Linked DNA regions of Homo sapiens. The protein of the gene in region 1 purifies or fractionates together with the protein of each later gene. This does not show direct contact. Each region holds a gene or a part of one and is shown in the gene's direction. Other genes may lie near its edges.

Region 1 (3,500 bases):
ATAATTTATATACTCTATTTCTTAACAGGTAGTTGTGTCAACTAACATAGCAGAGACGTCTTTGACAATAGATGGTGTGGTGTTTGTGATTGATCCTGGATTTGCGAAACAGAAGGTACATATTTAGTGGATACTTTATAAATTAGAGTTGGTTTAACAGTACTTACAACCAATTCATTTAATGGCTAAAATTTACCTTTCAGAATTATTTTCCTATCTTTTTTTTTATTTGCAAATTTCTGCTGTATGAACCCTTTATGTTTTGGCTGGCTCTCAGAAATTAAGACAGTATTTAATATGTAATTCTAGGCTTTTTTTTCTTTTAGAGTTGCTTTGCTTTCTTTGTTTCAGTGTAGTGACGGTGGGTGTTTTGGCTTGTATATTCATTTAACAGTATGGGTTTAGTAATAAAGTACAGGATTTCTATCCCTGCAGTTCAGTCACTTCTCCCAACATTATTAGAGTTACTGCTGTCAACTAGGCACACTATTTGAAAACAGTACTATGTTACTCCTCTAGTTTAACAGTGCTGTATACTAAATGAAGTGAAATGCAGGTGAAGTGGCTATTCAATAAATACGTTTTATTTTTCAAATATCTTTTGGATAAATTGATTACATTTTGTTATTGATGGAAATTTTTTCATTAAACAGTAACAGAGTAATAGTACTCAGACCGTCGAGTTTTGAAAGTGAAGGTTTCTTTTCGGGCAGAATCCTTGACTGCCCAGCATATAAAAAGCAAGGAACAAGGTCAGCCTGATAGAACTGAAATTAGGAGGAGTAAGGATTATATAAGCTGTGTGTTTGACAAGAAGTTTTTCATGTTAGAGTCTTTCAGATGATCGAATTAGAATGTCTGAAAGAACTTTAAGGTTCAGGATGGTGGGTTGTCTATTGTAGCAGCATGATTTATGGCTATCGATATTTCTTTATTTATTTTGGAATTAACTGTGGGCTTTGGATACTTCTGTTGCATCACAATTTTGTGTTTGACTGAAGAAAGACTCTTGTGTTATTTCAATTCCAATAGGTCTACAATCCTCGAATCAGAGTTGAGTCCCTTTTGGTGACAGCTATTAGTAAAGCTTCAGCTCAGCAAAGGGCTGGTCGAGCTGGACGTACCAGACCTGGAAAATGCTTCAGACTTTACACAGAGAAAGCTTATAAAACAGAAATGCAGGTATGGGGTATTGTCGTTTCCTGCCGATATGTTTAAAATGTTAGGTTGAATTATCTTACCAGAAGAACATTGCCTTATTTACTTAATCTTGCCTTTTAGGATTAAAAGCTCCTTAGCTTTTCCAGGAGTGAAATGTATGGTGTAATTAACTTAGATAGTCGTACACCCCCTTATTCCAGGCTGATACATTCCAAGACCCTCCCCCTCCCACGCCTAAAAACTGGAATATGCTGAACCTTACTTACATATACTATGTATAAATATCTTTCTTTACAATTTCACTGATAGAAGATGCATTCTTTCTTTAGATGTGATTTTTTTGCTCTTTTGTTACTAGGTTTCAACTTTTTTTCTTTCCTTACTAACTTTCAGCGTTTCACTTAAAGGAAGCACTTCAGGGCCTCTCATTGGCATATCCAAATTGCCAGCATCAATATTCTTGGCGCTTTGGGGCCATTATTAAGTAAAAGGTTACTTGAGCACAAGCACTGTGATACTGCAAAAGTTGATCTAATAACAGATGGTTGCTAAGTGACAAATGGGTGTATAGTGTATATAGCATACTACTAAGAATGGTGCACAATTTAAACTTGATGAATTTTTTCTGGAATCTTTAAAATTTTTTCTGTTGACACTGCTTAACTGAAACCATGGAAATTGCGAGTTCAGATGAGTGAAGACTACTATACGAATTTCTTTCTGCAGTTGCGAGTTTTATGGACAGTAGCAAACACTGAATACTATAAAGATAGTTGGAGAAAAATGGTTTCTCTCTAGTCTAGCCTACAAGTATTTATCTCTACTGAGACAGTGTAGAAGTAATGCCAAAACAAATAGCTCAGGAGGCAGCAGATTTTTGTTTTCTGGAACGAGGAGACTGAGGCATTTTTAACATAACCAATAAATGTTTTTGTTCTTTGCTAGGATAACACCTATCCTGAGATTTTGCGTTCTAATTTAGGATCAGTTGTGTTACAATTGAAGAAACTTGGTATTGATGACTTGGTACATTTTGATTTTATGGATCCACCAGGTATGACTTATCAAAACACATTTTTATCAGATCTTTTAACCAAAATTGACTCTTAGTGTTTTTCTCCATCCTATTTAATATATGTATTAAATACATTTTGCTTTTTCCATCCAGTATGCATCAAGATTAAGTCTTACATGATAGCATTAAAACTAAAAAAGGTGACAGTTATATGAGCACATTTTTTTTTTTTCTTCAAAAGTTATTATGGGGGGGTTTGGGTAAATTGAATTATCCTCTGGGCATGAAAATGTGAGAATTCCTAAGTTTTCTTTGGGGAAAAACAGTTTGATAAACACATTGATGAATTAGCAATTATTTAATGTATTTCGGAAGAAGACAGTTTTGCCTACAGGAAAATTTTGCAATGTTTTTATGATTCATTGTTTGCTAGATCTGTATAATTGAATTGGATGACAGTTTGAGTTTGAGTTTGGTCCACTGCAAAATGAAAAATGAGATTGCTTATAATAGTTTGTACTTTGTCACATTTTTGCTTGCTTAAGGCACCGTGTCTAATAGATTGTCTTTTACCACTAGCTCCTGAAACTCTGATGAGAGCCCTGGAACTTTTGAATTACCTGGCTGCTTTAAATGATGATGGAGATCTGACTGAATTGGGATCCATGATGGCAGAGTTTCCTCTAGATCCACAGCTCGCAAAAATGGTTATTGCAAGTTGTGACTACAACTGTTCTAATGAGGTCCTATCTATTACTGCTATGTTGTCAGGTAATAGAGGGAAAGGAACAAAAAAAAGCCCAGCTCTTCAAAGTTTGGGTGGACTTCACTTTTGTTTTTGTTTTTTAATTTTTAGTATGATAGTGGATTTTATAGATGGTTTTAAGGAATTAATTTTGTTTTCTAAATACCTTGTAAATAGCTTCGTAATGACATAGTGCTTACAAAAGTAAAGTAAGTCATTGTGCACAAAAGATAAGTAAAGCATTGGCTCTCTTGAGTGCTAATAAAAATTGCAGTAAGTTTGAGCACAGTTGTAACTGAATTCTTTGGTTAAAGGTCCATCACTGCTATCTTTGTGGTTTTTTTGTTTTTTGTTTTTTACTGCAAGTACAGGAAGAACTTTGCTCTAGTACTTAGCTCTATTAAGTGTGCCTGTGACAAACTGAAAGCTATACATTAAGTTGAGCCTTTTCTATATATGTACTCCAATGGCACCCGAACAAACATGAATTTCAAACTTCATATCAAGTAAATAGAAATAGTAATGTATAATTTTAGGCTTAAAATCTAATCTGATAATGGTATTCTTTTACAATGGTAG
Region 2 (4,094 bases), on another chromosome or scaffold:
TACTTCTCTCTTTGCTCTAGGAAGCTGAAAACAAAATTGGTGACATGGTTAGAGTAACTGAAGGTGACCCTTTATTATGGATTTTGTATGCTATCCCACTCCTTGATTCATTTTATTTCATCCTCATCTTATCTTTATTCTATTTTCATTTTTTTACTGTGAAGGGATCAGCTAAAAATTAACAAAAGAAGATATTCTCAAGTAATTAACACAAAAAAAGAGATCGATTGTATTGTTCTTGCATAAAAGTCTAAATGTAATGGAAAAGGAATATTCTAAAGTAATAGTACATTATCCAAATGAGAAACAAATAAATTATTAATTTCAAAACATTTGCAAACAATTCAAAAATCAAAATTAAATCACAAAACAACAGTATATATACACATATATTTTCAATGGACTAAAATACCTTTGATTACTATGTTCTTCATTTGAAGAAATAGTGAAAAATGCTAATATATCCAAAAGAATTGAAAGCAGGGTCTCAAAGAAATATATGCACACCCATGTTCATGGCAGCACTGTTCACAACAGTCAAGAAATGGAAGCAACTCAAATGTCCACGAATACTTGAATGAATAAACAAAACGTGGTGTATACATATGTTGGACTATTATTCAGCCTTAAAAAGGAAAGAAGTCCTGTCACATGTTACAATATGGATGAACCTTGAGGAACCATCCACGGATGCTTGAATGAATAAACAAAACGTGGTGTATACATACGATGGACTAGTATTCAGCCTTAAAAAGGAAATAAATCTTGTCACATGCTACAACATGGATGAACCTTGAGGACATTGTGCTAAGTGAAATAGGCCAGTCACAAAAAGACAAATACTTTACGAGTCCACTTACACGAAATATCTAAAGTAGTGAAATTCATAGAAATAGAAAATAGGACTGTGGTTACCAGAGACTGGAGTGACGGTGAAAAGCGGAGTTGTTGTCTAATGGGTATAGAGTTTCTGTTTTCCAAGATGAAAAATTTGTAACAATGTGAATATACTTAACATTACTGAAATGTACATTTAATCATAGTTAATATGGTAATTTTAAATATTATGTTGTGTGTTTTTTAACCAGAGTAAAAAAGGGTAAAAAGGTAATATATTTTAGGGCTTAAAATAGTTATTTTTTTCCAAGATGAAAGCTATGAGTAAACTTAAACCAGAAAATCGACTAGTTTTAAATCTACAGAATAAACAGTAGAGCCTTCCTTTTAGCCACATGATGTCGCTGTCCACCATAGAGTGTTCTCTAGGAAGGAAAATACCCAGAGCCCCTTTGTTACTTCAGAGAAGCGGAGGAATAAGAGAAGCAGCAGGACTTTAACAGAGACTAGAATATTTAAATTTTTGCAAAACATGCTCTTCTAATTTGATCAAAACATTGAGGATTGGTAATGGCGTCTTCTATCAGAAGGGGCCGAGGGGCCTGGACACGGCTGCTCTCGCTTCTGCTCCTCGCAGCCTGGGAGGTGGGGAGCGGCCAGCTCCGCTACTCCGTCCCCGAGGAGGCCAAACACGGCACCTTCGTGGGCCGCATCGCGCAGGACCTGGGGCTGGAGCTGGAGGAGCTGGTGCCGCGCCTGTTCCGGGTGGCGTCCAAAAGACACGGGGACCTTCTGGAGGTAAATCTGCAGAATGGCATTTTGTTTGTGAATTCTCGGATCGACCGGGAGGAGCTGTGCGGGCGGAGCGCGGAATGTAGCATCCACGTGGAGGTGATCGTGGACAGGCCGCTGCAGGTTTTCCATGTGGAAGTGGAGGTGAAGGACATTAACGACAACCCGCCAATATTTCCAATGACAGTAAAGACTATCCGGTTTCCCGAATCAAGGCTGCTTGATTCTCGGTTTCCTCTAGAGGGAGCATCTGATGCAGATATAGGAGTAAATGCTCTTCTCTCCTACAAGCTCAGCTCCAGTGAGTTTTTCTTCCTAGATATACAGGCAAATGATGAACTAAGCGAATCTTTGTCTCTCGTGCTGGGGAAATCGCTGGACAGAGAGGAAACTGCTGAGGTTAATTTGTTACTGGTGGCTACTGATGGGGGCAAACCTGAGCTCACGGGCACCGTTCAAATACTTATTAAGGTATTAGATGTAAATGACAATGAACCAACTTTTGCCCAATCAGTTTACAAAGTAAAATTGTTAGAGAATACGGCAAATGGGACCTTAGTGGTTAAGTTAAACGCTTCTGATGCAGATGAAGGACCGAACAGCGAGATTGTGTATTCACTCGGTAGTGATGTGTCCTCCACTATACAGACTAAGTTTACCATAGATCCCATCTCAGGGGAAATCAGAACTAAGGGAAAATTAGATTATGAAGAAGCAAAGTCCTACGAGATTCAGGTCACTGCAACTGACAAAGGAACCCCTTCAATGTCAGGACATTGTAAAATTTCATTAAAACTTGTGGACATCAATGATAACACACCAGAAGTCTCAATAACGTCTCTCTCACTTCCCATCTCAGAGAACGCTTCCCTGGGCACTGTCATTGCTCTCATCACGGTGTCGGATCGCGACTCTGGTACGAATGGACATGTCACCTGCTCCCTGACGCCCCACGTCCCTTTCAAGCTGGTGTCCACCTTCAAGAATTACTACTCGTTGGTGCTGGACAGCGCCCTGGACCGCGAGAGCGTGTCAGCCTATGAGCTGGTGGTGACCGCACGGGACGGGGGCTCGCCTTCACTGTGGGCCACCACCAGCGTGTCCATCGAGGTGGCCGACGTGAACGACAACGCGCCGGCGTTCGCACAGCCTGAGTACACAGTATTCGTGAAGGAGAACAACCCGCCGGGCTGCCACATCTTCACGGTGTCAGCGTGGGATGCGGACGCGCAGGAGAACGCGCTGGTGTCCTACTCGCTGGTGGAGCGGCGGGTGGGCGAGCGCGCGTTGTCGAGCTACGTTTCGGTGCACGCGGAGAGCGGCAAGGTGTACGCGCTGCAGCCGCTGGACCACGAGGAAGTGGAGCTGCTGCAGTTCCAGGTGAGCGCGCGGGATGCGGGCGTGCCGCCTCTGGGCAGCAACGTGACGCTGCAGGTGTTCGTGCTGGACGAGAACGACAACGCGCCGGCACTGTTGGCGCCTAGGGCTGGCACCGCTGCTGGCGCAGTGAGTGAGCTGGTGCCGTGGTCGGTGGGTGCAGGGCACGTGGTGGCGAAGGTGCGCGCAGTGGACGCTGACTCAGGCTACAACGCGTGGCTTTCGTACGAGCTTCAGCTGGGTACTGGCAGCGCTCGCATCCCGTTCCGCGTGGGGCTATACACGGGTGAGATCAGCACGACACGTGCCCTAGACGAGGCTGACTCCCCTCGACACCGCCTACTCGTGCTGGTGAAGGACCACGGCGAACCAGCGTTGACAGCCACGGCCACCGTGTTAGTGTCGTTGGTGGAAAGTGGCCAGGCACCCAAGGCCTCGTCGCGGGCGTGGGTGGGCGCCGCGGGCTCAGAGGCTACGCTGGTGGATGTCAACGTGTACCTGATCATCGCCATCTGCGCGGTATCCAGCCTGTTGGTGCTCACGGTGCTGCTGTACACTGCGCTGCGGTGCTCGGTGCCACCCACCGAGGGTGCGCGCGCGCCAGGAAAGCCCACGCTGGTGTGCTCCAGCGCCGTGGGGAGCTGGTCTTACTCGCAGCAGAGGCGGCAGAGGGTGTGCTCTGGGGAGGACCCCCCCAAGACGGACCTCATGGCCTTCAGCCCTAGCTTATCTCAAGGTCCAGACTCCGCAGAAGAGAAACAGCTCTCAGAATCAGAATACGTAGGAAAGGTGAGTCTTTTACTTTTTCTTGCCAATTCTAAAATTGTTCTTTTTAAAAAATTCTATATGATTTCTACTAGTTATTTAGATTCATAGTTCTTCATTTATTTTATATCATCCTACCGTGCGATTTTGAATATGAATTAGAGATCAATTTATTGCATTTACTGAACAATTTATTTAAACAATCTACATAACTGTTTTCTTATTTTTACATTTTGGCACTTCCATCATTAAGTCATAAGTAATAGACCATGAAACACTGAAAAACACCTCAGCAAAATTTGTAAATTAAACATTTCCCATAA
Region 3 (4,287 bases), on another chromosome or scaffold:
ATCTGAAAAAAAAAAAAATTTACATTCTGTAGTTTCCCAGAAATATATTCCAATTTCTAACAACTTATCATACTGTTGTCCAGTGCTATTTATTCAACAAGCTTTTGAGAGTTGTTGAGAGCGGGCACTGTCAACAACCAGGGATGCAAAGATGAATTTCATAAGCTCTGTGCTAGAGTATTACTACCTAGTAAAAACTAATAATTACAATAGAGTGAGCTATGAAAGCATTGAAAATGAAGCAAATATTTGTGCTTAGGAAAGCGTGGGAAGGCATCAAAGAGAGCAAAAAGGCAGTTTTGAGGTGTTATACATGGGACTGGACACCAGCAACAAAGGTGGTGAGGAAATTTTTGAACAGAAATGGGACACGGCCTCCTCTTAGAATTCAAGAGGTTGAATTGAAGGTTGTCTTTCCTTCATTGCACTTATTCCAATGTGTATGTTTAGATTTGTTTTTGTGATCATCAATGATGCTAGACTAAAAGTTCCTTGAGGACAAGTCTATATCCGATTTTCTTTACAACTGTATACTTCCCAGTGGTTACACATACAACATGTCAAATAAATGTGTTGTAAGCAAAAAGTGGGTAGGAGAGTTCTCAGAAGACTGGCTGCTCATTATTTATCCAATACTGTCAAGTGAGAGAGCCAGTGAATCTGTGAAAACAGAAGCATTGAATCTGGGAAAAGCATTCCTCTCACCAGAGGAGCATGCTCTACTGTCTGGCAGGGGATAATCCATTGAACTTCCTGTGGTCATAATTACCCATTTTTCTCCTTCCTTCTTCCCCCATTGGATGAATCATCTCTTTGCTCTTATTTCAACCTTTTAATTACTGATCCACCCTCTTTGATTACCTGACACAACAGGAATATCTTTCGTAACTTGAAAGGTCAGTTGACTGAATTTGTTTCATTTTGTTTAGTGATTATGCAGCCTTGCTCACTCTTGTGCATCTGTTGCAATGTTTTTCGTGGAAAACAAAGGTCTCATTTAGATTTCTAAATTACCTTGCTACAAAGCTGACTCTATACTAATGAAATTCCTCTAAAACAGTAGACGTAAGAAAGAATGCTTGCACTATAAGAAGAAACGAGTGTGAGGTCCTTCCGGATTTTTGCTGGGAAAAGATAAATCATTTTTTATGACTCCTGAATATGCCATCAGAATTGTTGGCCTTCAAGGTTTACCCCATTATTGTGGGCTAAAACGTATTCAAACGCTCGAAGACTAGAGACGCCTAAAGCCACCCGCCACCCCTAGTGTCCAGGAGGAGTCAGTAAACACCGAGATTGCTTCCCGCAGCACACCCAAGAAGGAATGTAATGTAATGCAGCCACCATGTTGGTTGTGGTTAAGTGCAGCAAACTGCTTGGCGTCACTTAGCCCTGCTGCGCAAGCGTGTTGAGAGTACGCTTCACTCCGCCCCTTCTCGTGCACGCGCCCGGAGCCCGCAACTCTCGCGAGAGAAGCGAGATTTATTCCTACGTACCGGGCCGTGCTGCTTATGGCGGCGCTGGAGAGGGGGCGCTGAGCTGTTGGGGTGAGTACGACCTCAGGGTCCAACTGGGGGTAGCAGAAACCCAGGGGAAGGGCTGAGAATAAGACCAAGGCTAACGAGAAGCCTTCTGAGTCAAGGTGGGCACTCGTAGAGCTCTAGGTGGGGAAGAATGCACCCCGATTCCCTGCCCTGGGCTTTTTCATACGTCTCCCGTTCAACTGCCTGGGCCTCATGTCAGGTCGCAGAGCTGAAACGAGGAGTTGAGGCCAGCCGGCTGCGCGTGGTGGTAGTGGTGGTGGTGACTAAAGTGGGGGGAGGGAGCGAAAATGGAGGCTCCGACAGCAGCCAAGATGGAGGCAGAGGGTGCGGGGCTCGGGCGCGGAGGCTGCTGGGATCTGTAGTCTGGCTGCTTCCCCATCTGCGGCTTGTCTGGGGAAACGGGAACTACATGTCCCGGCGGGCGGGGCGAGGGGGTGGTGGCGCGGTCCTTTGTGTGAGGTTGGAAGAGCCTGAGACCGAGAAGAGGGGCCTACTTTGACTCTGGACCCTGTAGTTTCCTGGCCGTTACCTGCTTGGGAATCTGACTACCAGTACCAGAGCGCAGTGCGGCAGTGGCGCCTTCTTTGTGTATAGACTGAGACCCTGCTCCATCTAGATATCTTAGGGGAAGTGTTTAAAGACACCTTTCCCCAGCCACATCTGGCACAGTAGTGTGGCGGAATTGACATCGTTACTCCAGTCACCTAGAGCAGGGTCTCAGCACCCAACCTTCCCCTCATTGTCTCCCCTTCGGCGTCTTGAGAAAGGGAACCAGTCCCTAATCTTTTAGGCACGTGGCTCCCACCCCTCTATCTTGGGGAATGGGCGTGCGCCCTGAAAGCTCAGTAGTGTCCTCCCTTCCACCTCCTGTAGTTCTCATGGTGCCAGCGCCTGGCCCACCCACATTGTGCAATGAACGGCCTGGCTTCGTCATTCTATGTAGAATGTTTTAGAGTTCCCCCGTCGGAGACAGCTTCAAATTTTTGCCATGCTATTTTATCAATACGAAATCTTAGTGCCAAGGTTCTTTTGCTTTAAGGTTTTCCCTTAGAAACACCCAGATGGCGGCCGTCTTGCTTAACTCACAGGTGAAGCAGAGAACGCTCCCTGAAACAGGCTTGAATCTGCAAAGAATATCTGAACGTTGTTGGGCAAGTTAATTTTCGTGTTTTGCACCTTAAATGAGTAAAAGAATATGGCGCTCTTTAAACAGTTGGGAGACAGGGCGGAGAGGGAGAATGCTCAAAGGCACTGTGGTAGTTAAATCTTTTTGAGAGGCTTAAATTTTCATCAGGCTGGTATGAACTGGCAGTTCTCAGCCACTGCTACTAACCTACTTTTTTAGAATGTAGGTTTCAAATTATAGCCCACAGATATAAGCTACTCTATACTAAAATGCTGAGTAATTTTCATTTTGAGTAACTAAAGGCAAACATTCTTGATATTGCATTGAGGAGCACTATAATACATACCTTGGTTTTCTTTTGGTACTAACCAATAATGGATATCCTTGGTGTGGGTAAGGAGGGGCTTTATATACTTCAGTAGGGATATACCTGAGTCATAAAACTTAGATAAATATTTGGCCTTCTTTTTGTTTCGTTTTAGCCCTGGGACTAAAATAAAAGAGAAGGTAATAGTTTGGTTTTGCAGCTGTTCTGGATGTTTACCATCGAGATGATTATTTATAGCAGCTGAGTTGAAAACTAAAGTATTTGAGGCACAGAAGATAGGTTTTCTTTTTTTGTAAGTACTGACTTAAGTGTGACCTTTAGCGAGTGTGGGTGAAAATCTGGTAAAGTCCTAGCAAATCAAAATTGAAAGCGTGAAAGCTGACGTGCAGTCTGGCTTTACCCTCTACCCTTATTTTCCCTTCTCCCCACCTGAAGACACATCGTGTAGGGCCATCGATTTTTGTTTTAAACAAACAAAATGCTAAAATATCAAATTATGCTGGAGCATTCATAACATGAAATTTAGTGTTCCAGTGTTTTTCATTGTACAGTTCAGTGGCACTAAGTCTATTGAAACTGTTGTGAGAGCCATACTTTCGACAAGGTAGTTAAAACATGGAAATTTTGGAACGATGTTCTTTTGGACAGATTTTTGAGGAGTTGAATTTCAGGACTGTATTGCAAAATGAGATAAAAATCTTGATCTTGTTAAGTAAACACAAAGAATTGATGTGCCTTCTTCTTAGCTTTGTCCTTGCAGAAAACAGAAGAGGAAGCACTTTGAGATCTATTTTGTAAGCTTTAATAGCTAGACTGTTGTAAGTGGTGAAACTACTATGGTGAGAGTGACTTGCTGTTAAATCCCTTCTGCCCAGTCAGGATTTTAAAAAGTCCTTTGTTTTGATATTAGAATGTTTTCCACTTGCATGTGTGGGTACCTAGTTAAAAACAACACAAAACTTTTTAATATTTTAATGTCCTTTTATGCTGAGGTAAAACAGTGTGTGGCTGAAAATTATCAGTTTCCCCTATGTTGCACATGTAAGCTATCCGTTGATTTGCAGCTACAGCCGGTACATAACCAGTTATTTGCACTTCTTTTTCTCCAATTTATTAACAACAAGCTTCTATGCTAGATACTGCCTACTTTTATTAGTGAAAATCTTTGCTCAAGACCCTTACATTTACTTCCTGTTGCTAATTGGCACAATAGTGCTTTTTTAGACCCCTGCTCAGTTTATACCTACTCTGTGGAACATGGTAGCCGCCAGCCACGTGTGGCTGTTGTG
Region 4 (3,500 bases), on another chromosome or scaffold:
TTGCCTCAGCCTCCCGAGTAGCTGGAACTACAGGCGCCTTCCACCTCGCCCAGCTAATTTTTTTGTATTTTTAGTTAGAGGCGGGGTTTCACCGTGTTAGCTAGGATGGTCTCGATCTCCTGACCTCGTGATTCGCCCGCCTCAGCCTCCCAGAGTGCTGGGATTACAGGCATGAGCCACCGTGCCCAGCCTGTATAAATTTAATCACACATGGTTGAATTAGATATGTTGGTAAAAATAACCCAAACTAGAAAAACTTAGAGTCACACAAAGCAATAAACAACTACAAAGCCTAGAGTTGGTATTAACAATTTATAAACTAATAGCTCTAACTTTGTATATCATGAAGTTTTAGAATCCAGAGACACCTCACCAAGTCTCATGACTATACTGAAAACACTGATTAAAATTTTTTGAAATTGTTCAGAGAATGCAGCTAACCATAACTGAAGTTCACTATTTTTAAGAGGACATGTATCAAATAGGGGATATGACTCATGAGTAAAATTCACATTTTTTCTAGCTGAAAAGCAAGTATATTTGAAGATAACATTTGGGTAACAAAATTGCCATATTTAAAAGATACTTTCGGCCTGGCGGGGTGGCTCACGCCTGTAATCCCAACACTTTGGGAGGCCGAGGTGGGTGCATCATGAGGTCAGGAGATCGAGACTATCCTGGCTAACACGGTGAAACCCCATCTCTACTAAAAATACAAAAAATTAGCCAGGTGTGGTGGCAGGCGCCTGTAGTCCTGGAGGCTGAGGCAGGAGAATGACGTGAACCCAGGAGGTGGAGCTTGCAGTGAGCCGAGATCCTGCCATTGCACTCCAGCCTGGGCGACAGAGCGAGACTCCGTCTCAATAAATAAATAAATTAATTAAAAAATACTATCACCATTCTAAAACTGAAGTTAAAATAACAAAGGAAATGTGATAAAATCAGGGCAATTCATGAGCACACAAAGGTCTTCAAAGACTATGTTATGTCAGCCAAAACCATTACTATGACAAATAAAACCATTGTGTTCCCAACTGCAACATCTTGAAGAAAACATTGCTAATAAAGACCATCTAAATAAGAAAGTTAGAGATATTGCTACATTTTCTGTATTACATTTGTCTCAAAGTTTTTATTTGTCTCAAATTTTTAATCATTTCTTTTCAGCCAGGGTAATGATAAATATTTGTATACAGAAATCCATTTTAAGTTTTATCATTTTAAGATAATTTCCATTTCTAAGTAGAAATAGTATACAACTATTACCATTGCAATCTTTAGCATTGTTGTTACAACAGTACTAGTTTTAAAACAAGTCTTTATATTTTATAGATACAAACTGAAATATTAACAGGTAAAAATTAAATGTCTAGGTCTTGCTTCAAAACAATACAAGGCGGCTGGGTGTGTTGGCTCACGCCTGTAATCCCAACGCTTTGGGAGGCCGAGGCAGGTGGATCACCTGATGTCAGGAGTTCAAGACCAGCCTGGCCAACTTGGTGAAACCCAGTCTCTACTAAAAATACAAAAACTAGTTGGGTGTTGTGGTGCGTGCCTGTAATCCCAGCTATTCAGGAGACTGAGGCAGGAGAATCGCTTGAACCCGGGAGGCGGAGGCTGCAGTGTGCCGAGATTGCGCCACTGCACTCCAGCCTGGCGACAGAGTGAGACTCCATCTCAGAAAAAAAAAAAAAAAGCCATTTACTGTGATTCCTAAAAGTATGCATGAACATGTGTTGCACAGACATTCAAAGTCTTGGAGAATATATACCTAAATGTTGATAAGTATATTGTTGATTAAAGTACCCTATGTTTCTTTTGCATTTAAAAAATTTCTCACATCTAGATGTGTCTCACAATTGACGATAGTTTTAGAGAAATCCATAATACTTTCATGTTAGGATGATCATAGCAGTAAATAACGAATATAATCTATTGAAAGTAGACAAAAGTTTTTTTTGTTTTTTGTTTTATTTTTTTGAGATGGAGTTTTTTGCTCTTGTTGCCCAGGTTGGAGTGCAGTCGCGCAATCTCGGCTCACTGCAACCTCTGCCTCCGGGTTCAAGCAATTCTCCTGCCTCAGCCTCCCGAGTGGCGGGGATTACAGGCATGTGCCACCACGCCCAGCTAATTTTGTATTTTTTTTTTTTTTTTTTTTTTGTAGAGACGGGGTTTCTCCATGTTGATCAGGCTGGTCTTGAACTCCTGACCTCAGGTGATCCGCCTGCCTCAGCCTCCCAAAGTGCTGGGATTACAGATGTGAGCCACCATGCTTGGCGCAAATTAAAGTTTTTAATGATTACAATACTTTACTGTAAAGGGATTAATGGCTCTTTTAAAAGAAAGGTTCTCGGCCAGGTGCAGTGGTGCACACCTGTAATCCCAGCTACTCAGGAGGCCGAGGCACTAGAATCTCATAAACCCAGGAGGTGAAGGTTGCAGTGAGCCAGGATTGCTCCACTGCACTCCAGGCTGGGCTACAGAGCGAGACTCCATCTCAAAAAAATAAAAAGAAAGGTTCCCTGCCCTACCCCCTAGGACCCCATAGCTCCAGCTACGGCCCAAGGCTGGGGCAGGAATATCTCTTGAGGCCAGGTAGATTCTAGACTGAATAGCCACTGTACTACAGCTGACTGGACTAGATCTGAATTCCATTTAGCTGTTAAATGGGCAATTCGAACTAGTAATTTGACCAAAATTACATGCAGGGTAAGAAAACTAGTTCATTATCTTAGTGAAAGAAATAGCTTCTACACCTTCATTTTACATGTAAAATTGTATTTGAAGAATGCAGCTGTATATGCCTCACCTGTACCATTTAAATAAAACTATTTAAACATTTTATTACAGGTTCTAAATGAGAAGAAACTTCAAGAGGTTGATAGTTTATGGAAAGAATTTGAAACTCCAGAGAAAGCAAACAAAATGTAAGTACTCTTGAAATCAATAATTTAGCAGTTAACATTTAGGGCTTGTTTTATTTTTTACATTTTTCCCTGATTTATATAATGTTACATTCGTAGTTTTCTGTTTTGAAATCTGTTTCAGGAATAATTTTGGTATGAACCTAATTATTACAAATGTTTTACTTGGAATATAGGCCATCTCAATTAATTTGAAGGCAGTAGTCTCCCCCTTACCCACAGGGATTATGTTCCAGAAGACCCTGTGGATACTTTAAACCTCGGATAGTACCAAATGTGATTGCTGTCAGTAGGAACACATTTGTCTTCGTGTCTTCCACACACAAATGTAATACCTTTTTTATCTTAACTAAGCACTTACCGCACACAGGGGTTGTAACCTGCTTTTTGAGTTTTGCAACATCAAAACTAGCATGAACTACTTTTTCTTTCATCACAATTTCATGGAAGATTCATTCTTAGTGTAGATGTTAAATCTTTGGTTTTTTTGTTTGTTTTTTGAGACAGAGTCTTGTTCTGTCACCTAGGCTGGAGTACAATGGCGCAATCTCTGCTCACTGCAACCTCCGCCTCCTG
Region 5 (3,500 bases), on another chromosome or scaffold:
TGGCTCTGCTTGGCCAGCGTCCTTTGCTCACAAGAGGCTCCTGGGAACCCCACACCTGTGCCCTAGTCATGCCACATGGGAGGAGTGTGGGCTGGTGGTCAGTAGCCCTCAGTTCTGGTGTCTATTCTGGAATTTCATTTAGAGTGGCCCAAGTGCGTCTTAGCTCCTCTCTGGGCATCTGTAAGTGATGATAATGGTCATGGCTGCCTCACAGGGTTTCTATGAGGAAGAATGAGATGGGGTATGGAGGATTTAGAGTCATGTCTGGCAGAAAGCAAGTACCCCACACATGGTAGCTGCTCGTAGTCATTTTTTGGCCAGACTTTGCCTGAGATTCCCCCACACAGAGGCTGCTAGTGCTCCAGTCCTTTCAGTGCAGAGCAAACCCTGGATCCTGCCGTGTGGATCCTGCTGAGGGGGAGGCGTTGTGGGGTATCAAGCCCTGGTCACTCAGGGTTGATGCCTCAGTCCTTGGCGCCCAGGCAGAAGGGGATGGGAAAGGAAAGAATGATTTCCTGATATCTATATCTGGGGCGGGGGGCTGTACATGGCTTCTGTCTCACTTAATCCATACTATTGTGAGCCCTATTTACAGAGGAGAAGACTGAGGCTCAGAGAGGTGAAGTGATTTGCCCAAGGTCACACAGCTGGCAAGTGGCAGAGCCAGGGTTTGAACTCAGATCTATCTGGCTCCAAGTTGTGTCCTGACCACTGCTGAGTTTTCAGAGGGGCCGGAGGTGGCTGGGGATGGGAGTTGGGAAGGAGGTAGTTTTGGCTCTGCCAGAGTTGTTCCCTGGAGCAGGTACCAGTTGGGAAGTCCAGGCCCTGATGTGCCACTCACCCTCCAGTGTATGCCTGGAAGGGCGAAACGGACGAGGAGTACCTGTGGTGCATTGAGCAGACCCTGTACTTCAAGGACGGGCCCCTCAACATGATTCTGGACGACGGGGGCGACCTCACCAACCTCATCCACACCAAGTACCCGCAGCTTCTGCCAGGTGAGCAGGGCGGGGCAGGTGGGCTGGGTGCTGGTGGCCTGGGTGGGGCCTGTTTGCCCACATGATGGCCGCAGGCCTGGCAGGACTCCCATCACCTCAAGCAGCAGGATCTGGAAGATGGGAGGATGGCAGGCTCTGGCATTCATGCTGGGGCCTCCTGACTTCTGAGGGTGCGAGGCTAGGGCAGCTGAGCTGATGGCCCAAGGGCAGGCACAGACAGGGCCATGGTTGGGAATAGCTGGGAGGGAGCCAGCTTTGTTCAAAGCAGGTACGCAGAGTGCAGAGGCCCTGAGGCAGGAATGGCTGGAGTGTTCAGGAAACAGAAAAGAGGCCCACAGGATAGCAGTGAGCAAAGGGAGCCTTCACTGCGGGTATGGTGTGAACTTCGTGAAGACCAGATGTGTCAGGGCCTAATAGGCCAATAGAAAAGTGTTTGACCTGATTTGCAGAGCAAGGGGAAATAACTGGAGGGCGTTGAGAAGATTTCTCTGAGAAGATACATGTTAGAAATGGCTGCTGCATGGAGGATGGGTTGTGGTAGGGAGACTGGGAAGAAGCGACAGGGTCACGGACTAGAGCAGCGGCAGTGAGAATAGAGAAGCTGGGAGTTGTTCGGAGGCAGAGTCACTAGGCCTGGTGGTGGCTTCCCTGTAGGAGGGCGTTGGGGACTCCTCCCTCACGCGGGTCTGGGTGATTGGGGGGCCTGTGGGATCAGTCACAGAGATGGGAACCCAGAAAGAGGAATGGCTTTAGGGGGTAAAGATGAGGAATTTGCATGAGCACAGGTGTGGCATCTCTGAGGCTTGTCCTGTCCCCTCTTGTTTAGGCATCCGAGGCATCTCTGAGGAGACCACGACTGGGGTCCACAACCTCTACAAGATGATGGCCAATGGGATCCTCAAGGTGCCTGCCATCAATGTCAATGACTCCGTCACCAAGGTGAGCCGAGGGGCAGTGACAGCTCCCGCTACAGTGGCTGCAGCTCAGGACGAGGCCTCTGAAGAAGAGTGCCCAGGAAGGCTGAGATTAGGGACATGAAGCCCTCATTTGAGGGGGCAAAAGCGGTTATAGACAGGCTAATGAGTGCGTTTAAAAGGGGTGTCAGAGCTGGGTGTTAGGAGCTTTATGGCTTTGGGAAGAAGAGCTTTCAAGTTAAGCAAGGTCTTTGACCGGGCAATCTCTCCTAGTAACTGATGCCTAGGAAGGCTCCACACTGGCAGAGAAAGATTAGAGAGAAGCTCTTTGAGCCGATCGGGGTGAAGGGCTTGTGGGGGCATTGGGTGCTGGAGGGGTTCAGCCCAGGCCGGGATGCTTGGTGGGCCCATGATGCCTGGGCTCTTCAGAATACTCTGAGGCCAAGTTGTCCTGGCCCCAGGGCCTTGCCTGCCCCTATTGTCTCCTTACCCCCTTTCCTTTCAGAGCAAGTTTGACAACCTCTATGGCTGCCGGGAGTCCCTCATAGATGGCATCAAGCGGGCCACAGATGTGATGATTGCCGGCAAGGTAGCGGTGGTAGCAGGCTATGGTGATGTGGGCAAGGGCTGTGCCCAGGCCCTGCGGGGTTTCGGAGCCCGCGTCATCATCACCGAGATTGACCCCATCAACGCACTGCAGGCTGCCATGGAGGGTAGGATAGGGCAAGGGTTGGTTGTCAGCCACTGGGGCCAGAGGGAGGGGCAAGGCCACCGTAGATGACCCACAGCCACTGTCTCTGCACAGGCTATGAGGTGACCACCATGGATGAGGCCTGTCAGGAGGGCAACATCTTTGTCACCACCACAGGCTGTATTGACATCATCCTTGGCCGGTAGGTGCCAGATGGGGGGTCCCGGGGAGTGAGGGAGGAGGGCAGAGTTGGGACAGCTTTCTGTCCCTGACAATCTCCCACGGTCTTGGGCTGCCTGACAGGCACTTTGAGCAGATGAAGGATGATGCCATTGTGTGTAACATTGGACACTTTGACGTGGAGATCGATGTCAAGTGGCTCAACGAGAACGCCGTGGAGAAGGTGAACATCAAGCCGCAGGTGAGAAGCTCCCGCCTTGCCAGTGGGCTGGGCAGATGGGAGTGCAGAGGAGTGCTGGCTGCCAGGGAGGAGAGCTGAGGAGATGGTGGCAACCTGTGCAGGGGGATGGGGAGAAGAGGGCCTAGCATCAGAGCCAGCCAGACGTGGCAACCTTATCCTGTGGGCAGCCGGCATCCCTGAAGGTATCAGGCAGGTGAGCTGTATGTGGTGAGGCTGTAGTTTTAGAAAGATCACTCTAGCTACTGTGTGCAGAATAAAAGCAACAATGGCGGGTGGTGGGGAGAGAGGCTTTTAGAGGAGGCTCGTAGAATCCCTGCAGGGGATGATGGCAGCCTCAGCTTAGGGAGTGCTGGGGTGGATGGACGGCATGTGGGGTCAGGATGGAGGCAGAGTAACAAAGGACACAGCTTTGGCCGGGCATGGTGGCTCACACCTGTAATCCCAGCACTTTGGAAGGCCGAGATGGGCGGATCACC
Region 6 (3,500 bases), on another chromosome or scaffold:
CACCCTATGTAAAATAAAGCACCTCTGCTGCTGCTTTATTCTCCTTAACACTACTTTTTTTCTATAGCACCTGTCACCAGTTGACAGGTTAAGTTTAACAACTTCTCTCCTGTAGAATATGAGGTGCTTTAAAATACATGTATGACTGAACCTCACCCACACCTACTGAAGCTCTTCATTTCGGTTCTGAATGCCTATTTTGGGGAAACATTTCTGGGATTATGACAGACATTTCAATGACAACCTGCTCTAGGAGGTTTCCTGCATTGTCATTGTTAAGTCCATCTATTTATTCCTTCTTTTAAACCAGAATTTCTGGCCTGTAATTTTACTGAGAAATAGAAATACTATCTTTACAATAGGTGATATTCTAACTGTCTCTACAGCATGATGGCTTTGCAGGTATTTGAAAGTTGAACCCCACATATACTCTTTGTTAAACTGTTATTTTGATTCTGGTTGTTTCTGAAATGCGTACTGGAAATGCAGCATTGTTTGAATATCTATTGTGTGTGAGTTGCTTTCTAAATGTACCTTAATCCTTACAAACCTGGAGGAAAAAAATGTTTTTGACCCTGTTTTACAAGTTCGTGAACTGAAATTTACATAGGTATTTTTTGTATGCCCAAGCCATACTGCCAATGTCAGAACTAGAACTTGAACCCAAGTTGTGACTCTCCTTTACCACTTGATCAGGAGTTTGCTGATTTAGCCAAGTAACTTGTAAGATCTTCACATGCTTTCTTTTAGTGGGATTGCCCAGCAAAGTGCTTATCAGGTGATGATCCCAGTGAAGTATGTCACAGTTATGCAGTAACTTAAGGCTGCTGTAATACGGAGATACATTGAAGTTCATTAGTAACTTTTCAGTGACCCAAAATGGATACTTTAATGGTTATATAAGTATAAATTAGTATATTAGGTAAGGGAAAGAGTTTAGTGCACCTTTAAAGAAAAAATGGTTTTAATTGATGCACCATTTTATTGTATATTTCTTTACATAGTGAGAAGGGGGCACATGAGGTCAGCAGTCAAGTTTTCAGGTTAATGTCGTCTTTGTCACACACCTCCTTTTGTGGGTTGGCGATACTTTTATTTATGAGCTCGAAATTCTCCACTTAGCACACTATTAAGGTGGAAATTGGAAGGCTGATATCAGTGGCCTAAACCTGAAGTTCTCGTACGTTAGTAGGCATGAATACCTTGTTAAGAATCTGGGCCTTCATGTAAAAAAGATTCTCTACAGACCCTTAGGTGAACAACGGAAATCTCAGGTTTTCTCTCTGTAGTCTAGAAGATTCTGAAATAGCCCTCAGAGGACACGTAAGAACTGTTAAAAACTACACCACCGCTCTTAGTTGGAGGACAGAAGTGGCATGCAGGACTCACTTTACCCTATCTTGTTCCTCATTTCTCCCTACTTTATATTAATTCTAAAGAGATACGGAGTAAAATATGTGTCGTATTTGGAAGCAGTACTTCCACAGAATTTTAGAGCACAAAAATTAATTTCAGGCATCAGTCCTCTATCTTATATTAACATATTATCTTATTAAGATAAATTTTATTAGGAGGCTGAGGCGGGTGGATCACCTGAGGTCAGGAGTTCAAGACCAGCCTGACTAACATGGTGAAACCCCATCTCTGCTAAAAATAGAAAAATTAGCCGGACGTGGTGGCGTGTGCGTGTAATCCCAGCTACTTGGGAGGCTGAGGCAGGAGAATCGCTTGAACCTGGGAGGTGGAGGTTGCGGTGAGCCGAGATCGTGCCATTGCGCTCCAGCCTGAGCAACAAGAGTGAAACTCCATCTCAAAAAAAAAAAAATTTTAATCGAAAAAATGTTAAGAATGTAATTGTGGGCCCAGATACCATCAAAAACTTGTTTTAAACCCATCTAAAGGAGGCCATTTGAAGTGGAGAGAGATGAAATTATATTTCTTATTCACAGTATTCAAATTCATATTTAATCTGTACCCTACCATCACTTAACAGGTTTTGATATAGCCAAAATAATTGGAGCATTCCTATGCCATTAATGAGTAGGAAAAAAAATATGAGTCACTTTAAGGTTGCCAAGTATAAAGAATACAATTTGAGCACGGGGGCAGTACTTTTTTTCCTAAAGAACTATTTATTAAAAATATCATATTTGGGAGTCATTTCTTTTAATAAGATAACAATAAAAAGTGTTAAAAGAATTGGTAGAGGTCAGTTTTAAGAAGTGTTAAGTGCTTGCTATTTCCCAGGGCATTGTGTTGGGTGTTAATAATATAAGATGATAGCATTAAAAGAGCTTTGTAATTTATTGATGGAAACATGGATGTCAGCAAAGAAATGTGAAGTGCCATAGCTTACTAAACCTGCTAAAGTACTTGACAGTGAGGCACACCTGCAGCCCCATCTATTGGGGAAGCTGGAGTGGGAGGCTGGGTAACATAGTAAGACCCCTCCCATTTCTTTAAGGAGAAATTGCTTAAACATTCTTTTTACTACTGCGGGTGCAACATTGTTAAATTTTATAGCAGCAGTGTTTCACATCTAAAAACCACTGTATTCTTTAAGAAACATTCAACAGTAAGCCTGTATAACAAGGTGGCTTAACTTGCTTGTGGATATCCTGTTAATTTTGCTTTGAACTTGGGTTAGGGTCTGTGTTTAGCCTGAGAGGTCCTTGTAGGGAAGCTTGTATCAGAAGTTCTAATGGGTTTGAGTTCTCAGGCCATATATAGCATCATGTTAGTGTTTGAGTTGTGATAAAAATTATGGGGTTTTTTGTTAGGCCTAAATTAAAAGAAATTATTTTTCTTTTCAACAATGAATCTGAAATTCTTAGTATAACCAAATCTGATGCATTTACAATTTTATGTACACATTGGTGTGTTTCATTTTTTAGAAACTGTGAAGCCTCATTCAGATAGTATTAAAATACAGGATTTTCCTTTTCATTAATGAGTCCTATGATGTAAGTGTTATATTGATGTTAAAATGAAGTAGTTTTGTACCCTGGGTGCATAAAATTGTCAGAGAGAATTAAAGGAGAAAGAACTCAAACTTCATCAGAGATCTTGATTTAATTCATGTGAAGAGTGTGGATTACCCCCAACCCCCAACCCCATGACTCTAATACACATTAGAGTGTATTAACTAGGGATGGTGTGTTTATTTCTGCCTTAGGGCACTAGCTTTCCAAATAACTTTTGGTATGGGCTTGAGCCATCCCTGTATTCATGCACAGAGTTTCAAGGCAGAAATTTGAGCTACCCTGTAACTTAACAGTTGAAAAAAACCCTGCTTCCTGTGTTATCTGTCTTACTTACACTGCCATAGCTTGCAGTTTAGCACTTGTCTTTCTTTTACCTAAGGAAGTAATTTGTTGAGGGAACTAGCCCTTTTGCTTATTGAAACTTTGCAGGGTGGCACTAGTGGAACGTAGTACTACTCCCATGTGTGCCTACATTTTTTCTTTTATCTGAAAGTGCTCCAAGCCAGAAATCCTTGA
Region 7 (3,500 bases), on another chromosome or scaffold:
CTAGCATTTAATCCTGACTAATTTAATTAATTATTCATCCTTGTAGTTTTTCCTATTTTATTGATTATGAAACTGAGACAAAGGTTACGAGTTGCCCAAGATGCTTGGGGAGTATTAAAGATAGCCCAAAGCTTAAACTCTAACACTGTTCAGACTTTTAGCTTGCTTTTTCTTAAAAAAAAAAAAAAAAGAGTCTTTATTTTGTTATTCAGTAACTTAATGCTTGACAATTTAAAAAATACAAAATGTTTGGAACACATACTTTAAATAATTCCTTTGAAGATTTTTGATATGAAAATATATTTTAAGTTCCACATCTCAAAAATTACTTATTTTAAAATTTGGTCTTTTGTTACCCCCCTCACCCAATTTAATATTGAAAGTGCTGGCAAGTTGGAACAAGGAATTGGTGATATAGTTTGGAAGAAACAACTATTTTAAATGTCAACCTTGTTATACTCAGATCTAATATTTTTATAGGCCGAAATTCATATTGCATTAGTTCAGACATAATAAACCAGCCTCCTCACTATAGCTATGGATAAAATGCAATTAGCTTTTGGTTATTTTTAAAATGGGTTTCAGTTATTGAAGTCTCTCCACCCCCCTTATTTTTTCATTTTGTTTCTGTTAGAGAAGATTCTTCTTGGAGGTGGTTTGTTGTAGGGTGGAGGAAGGAGAGAATTCTTAAGGTATAGAATTTTGCATTTGCTTCTGGTAGCTCAGAGATTATTTGAAATCTTTGCTTTTAGTCAGTATACTTTGTTGATTCCATTTAGTTATTCTAAGATTTTCCAATTGTATTTCCTGTAAAAGTTATAGTCTTTAGACCATAAAAACTAAAACTAGTAACTGCAGATCTTTTTTTTTTTTTTTTTTTTTGAGATGGAGTCTCACCCTGTTCCCCAGGCTGGAGTGTGATGGCACGATCTTGTCTCACTGCAACCTCCGCCTCTCGGGCTCAAGTAATTCTTTGCCTCAGCCTCCTGAGTGGCTGGGATTACAGACGCACACCACCATACCCGGCTAATTTTTTGTATCTTTAGTAGAGTCAGGGTTTCACTCAAATTCCTGACCTCGTGATCCTCCTGCCTTGGCCTCCCAAAGTGCTGGGATTACATGTGTGAGCCTCCGTGCCTAGCCAGTAACTGCAGATCTTAAAACAGATTTCCCCTCTTCTTCTTCTTCCTCTTCTTCCTCTTCTTCTTCCTCCTCTTCTTCTTCTTCCTCTTCTTCCTCTTCCTCCTCTTCCTCCTCTTCCTCTTCTTCTTCTTTCTTCTTTCTTCTTTCTTTTTCTTCTTTCTTCCTTCTTCTTCTTTCTTCTTTCTTTTTCTTTCTTCTTTCTTCCTTCTTTTTCTTTCTTCTTTCTTCTTCTTCGGAATCTCACTCTTTGGCCAGGCTGGAGTGCAGTGGCACGATCTCAGCTCACCGAAACCTCCACTCCCAGGTTCAAGTGATTCTCCTGCTTCAGCCTCCCAAGTAGTTGGAATTACAGGCAGCCACCACCATGCCTGGCTAATTTTTGTGTTTTTAGTAGAGACGGGGTTTCACTGTGTTGGCCAGGCTGGTCTTGAACTCCTGACCTTGTGATCCACCTGCCTCGGCCTCCCAAAATACTGGGATTACAGGTGTGAGCCACTGCACCAGGCCTCCCCCTTTCTTAAGATACAAGGAAGTGTATCTTTTCAGTGTGTGCTCTTTATGGATGTATACAATGCAGATGAATTTAGGAAGGCAATTTCAGATTTTGAAAACTGTTGAAATTAAACTTGAACATTGAAAAATCAAATTTGCAGTTGTCTTAAGTGTTTGCATTAGTTAGATGCTTCACAATTAATAAATACTAGCTAATATAATTTTATAAGACCCTTTGAAGAGGGAATTGTGAGTTTATTTTTAAGATAAGCCAGGTTATATCAAAGATATTGTAACCAACTAGATTTTATTTGGAGACTTTGTACTCTGCTTTAGAATCCAGTAGCTCTATCAGTGTGAGCTGTTTCCATTCTTGAGTAGAAGTTTTCTCCTGTTATTTTTTCTTTGTTCTAGCTGGGTTTAAGACAGCCTTCTTTGTAGAAATTGTTGGCCTGTTTATCCTTCACCCACCCTGAAGACACTTAATTTTATGGACTGTTCTTGTACTGCCTCATCACCAGAAAAAGCAGGCTGGAAATTAACTGTCATATTCCCGCAGGTTTAATTTAACTGATTATAAGAAAGTACAGTTATTGTTCTACCTTCTTTAAATCTTTGTCCTTGATGACCAAGCTCAGGTTTTTATTTTTGCTTATTTATTTATTTTTTGGAAATGGAGTCTCACTCTGTCACCCAGTCTGGAGTGCAGTGGTGCAGTCATAGCTCGTTACAGCCTGGAACTCGCGGGCTTAAGTGATCCTTCCACTTCAGCCTCCCAAGTAGCTGGGACTCCAGGCATGTGCCACCACGCTCAGCTAATTTTTAAATTTTTTTGTAGAGATAGGGTCTCGATGTTACCCAGGTCTTGAACTTCTGACTCTGAGTGATCTTTCCACCTCAGCCTCCCAAAGTGCTGGGATTACAGATATGAGCCACCAGTCTGGGTGGGTTTTCTTTTTTAAATAATAGATTTAAATTGTTCATTACTTTGTTTTGAACATTTGTTGCACAATGCCGGAGTAATATTTTGATTAAAGTTTTTGAATATCAAGTTGAAATTTCTAGAAAACAAATTTCTGACTTGGAATGTTTCCCTGAGATAATCGATGGATGACATGTTAGAAAAATGTTCTACTATATTAGGCATTTAAAAAATAACTGTATAATATAGAGACTGTGGGAGCAACAATGGTACAAATTGCTGGTTGAGCAAATTTTAATTTTAGTTGCACACAGTAAAATGTTCTTTGGTTTCATTAAGATTAACTCTTATTTCCATGTGAATTATTTTGGATATTAATAGTGAGATGCTTTAGCATTGGAGAAATTGCTTTATAAAAACTGAAGGATCAGACTTCACCTTAAGTGTATGAAGTAGCTGCCAGACCTCAACATTCGTGCCATGAGAATTTAATTCTGAGAGCTTAAATGCGTTAGTTTCATTTTATTTGCTTTGAATGTTTTGTTTATATATAGTTTTTTTTAGAGCCTCATTTAAAAAATATATGTATTTCTAGTTTTTTTCTTCGAATATATAATACAGATTTTTGGGAAAATGTGGGTCATGTTTGAAAATTCTATCGATTGTAAAAAAAAATTCCGACTCTTGGTTTTGGTTAAATAATTAGAACAGCTATTTAGAAAAACTGAAATAGTTAATGGTTTTGGAGTTTGCAGGTGCCTGTTTTCTGAAATATTGATTATCTATCCCTCGGGCAGAGTATACGTATTTGCCAAGTTTGTATTTCTTTTTTCTATTTCTTCAAAATAAGTCCCGTTGATTTTAAAAGAATAAAGAGTTTCCCAGTAAGTACAAGTGTGGTACTTTTTCCCCCTCCACTTTGTACTTTAGTGTTAACCTTTAT

Evidence for each region.
Region 2: the proteins of DHX15 (region 1) and PCDHA2 fractionate together in Homo sapiens (co-fractionation; one large-scale study listed by BioGRID). This does not show direct contact.
Region 3: the proteins of DHX15 (region 1) and CSDE1 fractionate together in Homo sapiens (co-fractionation; one large-scale study listed by BioGRID). This does not show direct contact.
Region 4: the proteins of DHX15 (region 1) and NOP58 fractionate together in Homo sapiens (co-fractionation; 2 studies listed by BioGRID). This does not show direct contact.
Region 5: the proteins of DHX15 (region 1) and AHCY fractionate together in Homo sapiens (co-fractionation; 2 studies listed by BioGRID). This does not show direct contact.
Region 6: the proteins of DHX15 (region 1) and SRSF11 fractionate together in Homo sapiens (co-fractionation; one large-scale study listed by BioGRID). This does not show direct contact.
Region 7: the proteins of DHX15 (region 1) and USP3 fractionate together in Homo sapiens (co-fractionation; one large-scale study listed by BioGRID). This does not show direct contact.

What each region holds. Positions count from the first base shown.
Region 1 is NC_000004.12:24,539,555-24,543,054, reverse strand, and holds part of DHX15 (ATP-dependent RNA helicase DHX15), read left to right. Parts: intron 1-28; coding exon 29-115; intron 116-1,032; coding exon 1,033-1,182; intron 1,183-2,106; coding exon 2,107-2,215; intron 2,216-2,755; coding exon 2,756-2,947; intron 2,948-3,500.
Region 2 is NC_000005.10:140,793,558-140,797,651, forward strand, and holds the start of PCDHA2 (protocadherin alpha-2 isoform 1 precursor), read left to right. Parts: upstream 1-1,294; 5' UTR 1,295-1,407; coding exon 1,408-3,795; coding exon of another isoform or gene 3,796-3,882; exon of another isoform or gene 3,883-3,920; intron 3,921-4,094. UniProt on the Homo sapiens protein: Potential calcium-dependent cell-adhesion protein. May be involved in the establishment and maintenance of specific neuronal connections in the brain.
Region 3 is NC_000001.11:114,755,185-114,759,471, reverse strand, and holds the start of CSDE1 (cold shock domain-containing protein E1), read left to right. Parts: upstream 1-1,487; 5' UTR 1,488-1,547; intron 1,548-4,287. UniProt on the Homo sapiens protein: RNA-binding protein involved in translationally coupled mRNA turnover.
Region 4 is NC_000002.12:202,272,263-202,275,762, forward strand, and holds part of NOP58 (nucleolar protein 58), read left to right. Parts: intron 1-2,850; coding exon 2,851-2,927; intron 2,928-3,500. UniProt on the Homo sapiens protein: Required for the biogenesis of box C/D snoRNAs such as U3, U8 and U14 snoRNAs. Part of the small subunit (SSU) processome, first precursor of the small eukaryotic ribosomal subunit.
Region 5 is NC_000020.11:34,289,856-34,293,355, reverse strand, and holds part of AHCY (adenosylhomocysteinase), read left to right. Parts: intron 1-848; coding exon 849-998; intron 999-1,824; coding exon 1,825-1,937; intron 1,938-2,417; coding exon 2,418-2,625; intron 2,626-2,717; coding exon 2,718-2,805; intron 2,806-2,906; coding exon 2,907-3,024; intron 3,025-3,500. UniProt on the Homo sapiens protein: Catalyzes the hydrolysis of S-adenosyl-L-homocysteine to form adenosine and homocysteine. Binds copper ions.
Region 6 is NC_000001.11:70,224,380-70,227,879, forward strand, and holds part of SRSF11 (serine/arginine-rich splicing factor 11), read left to right. Parts: intron 1-3,500. UniProt on the Homo sapiens protein: May function in pre-mRNA splicing.
Region 7 is NC_000015.10:63,511,093-63,514,592, forward strand, and holds part of USP3 (ubiquitin carboxyl-terminal hydrolase 3), read left to right. Parts: intron 1-883; exon of another isoform or gene 884-3,500. UniProt on the Homo sapiens protein: Deubiquitinase that plays a role in several cellular processes including transcriptional regulation, cell cycle progression or innate immunity.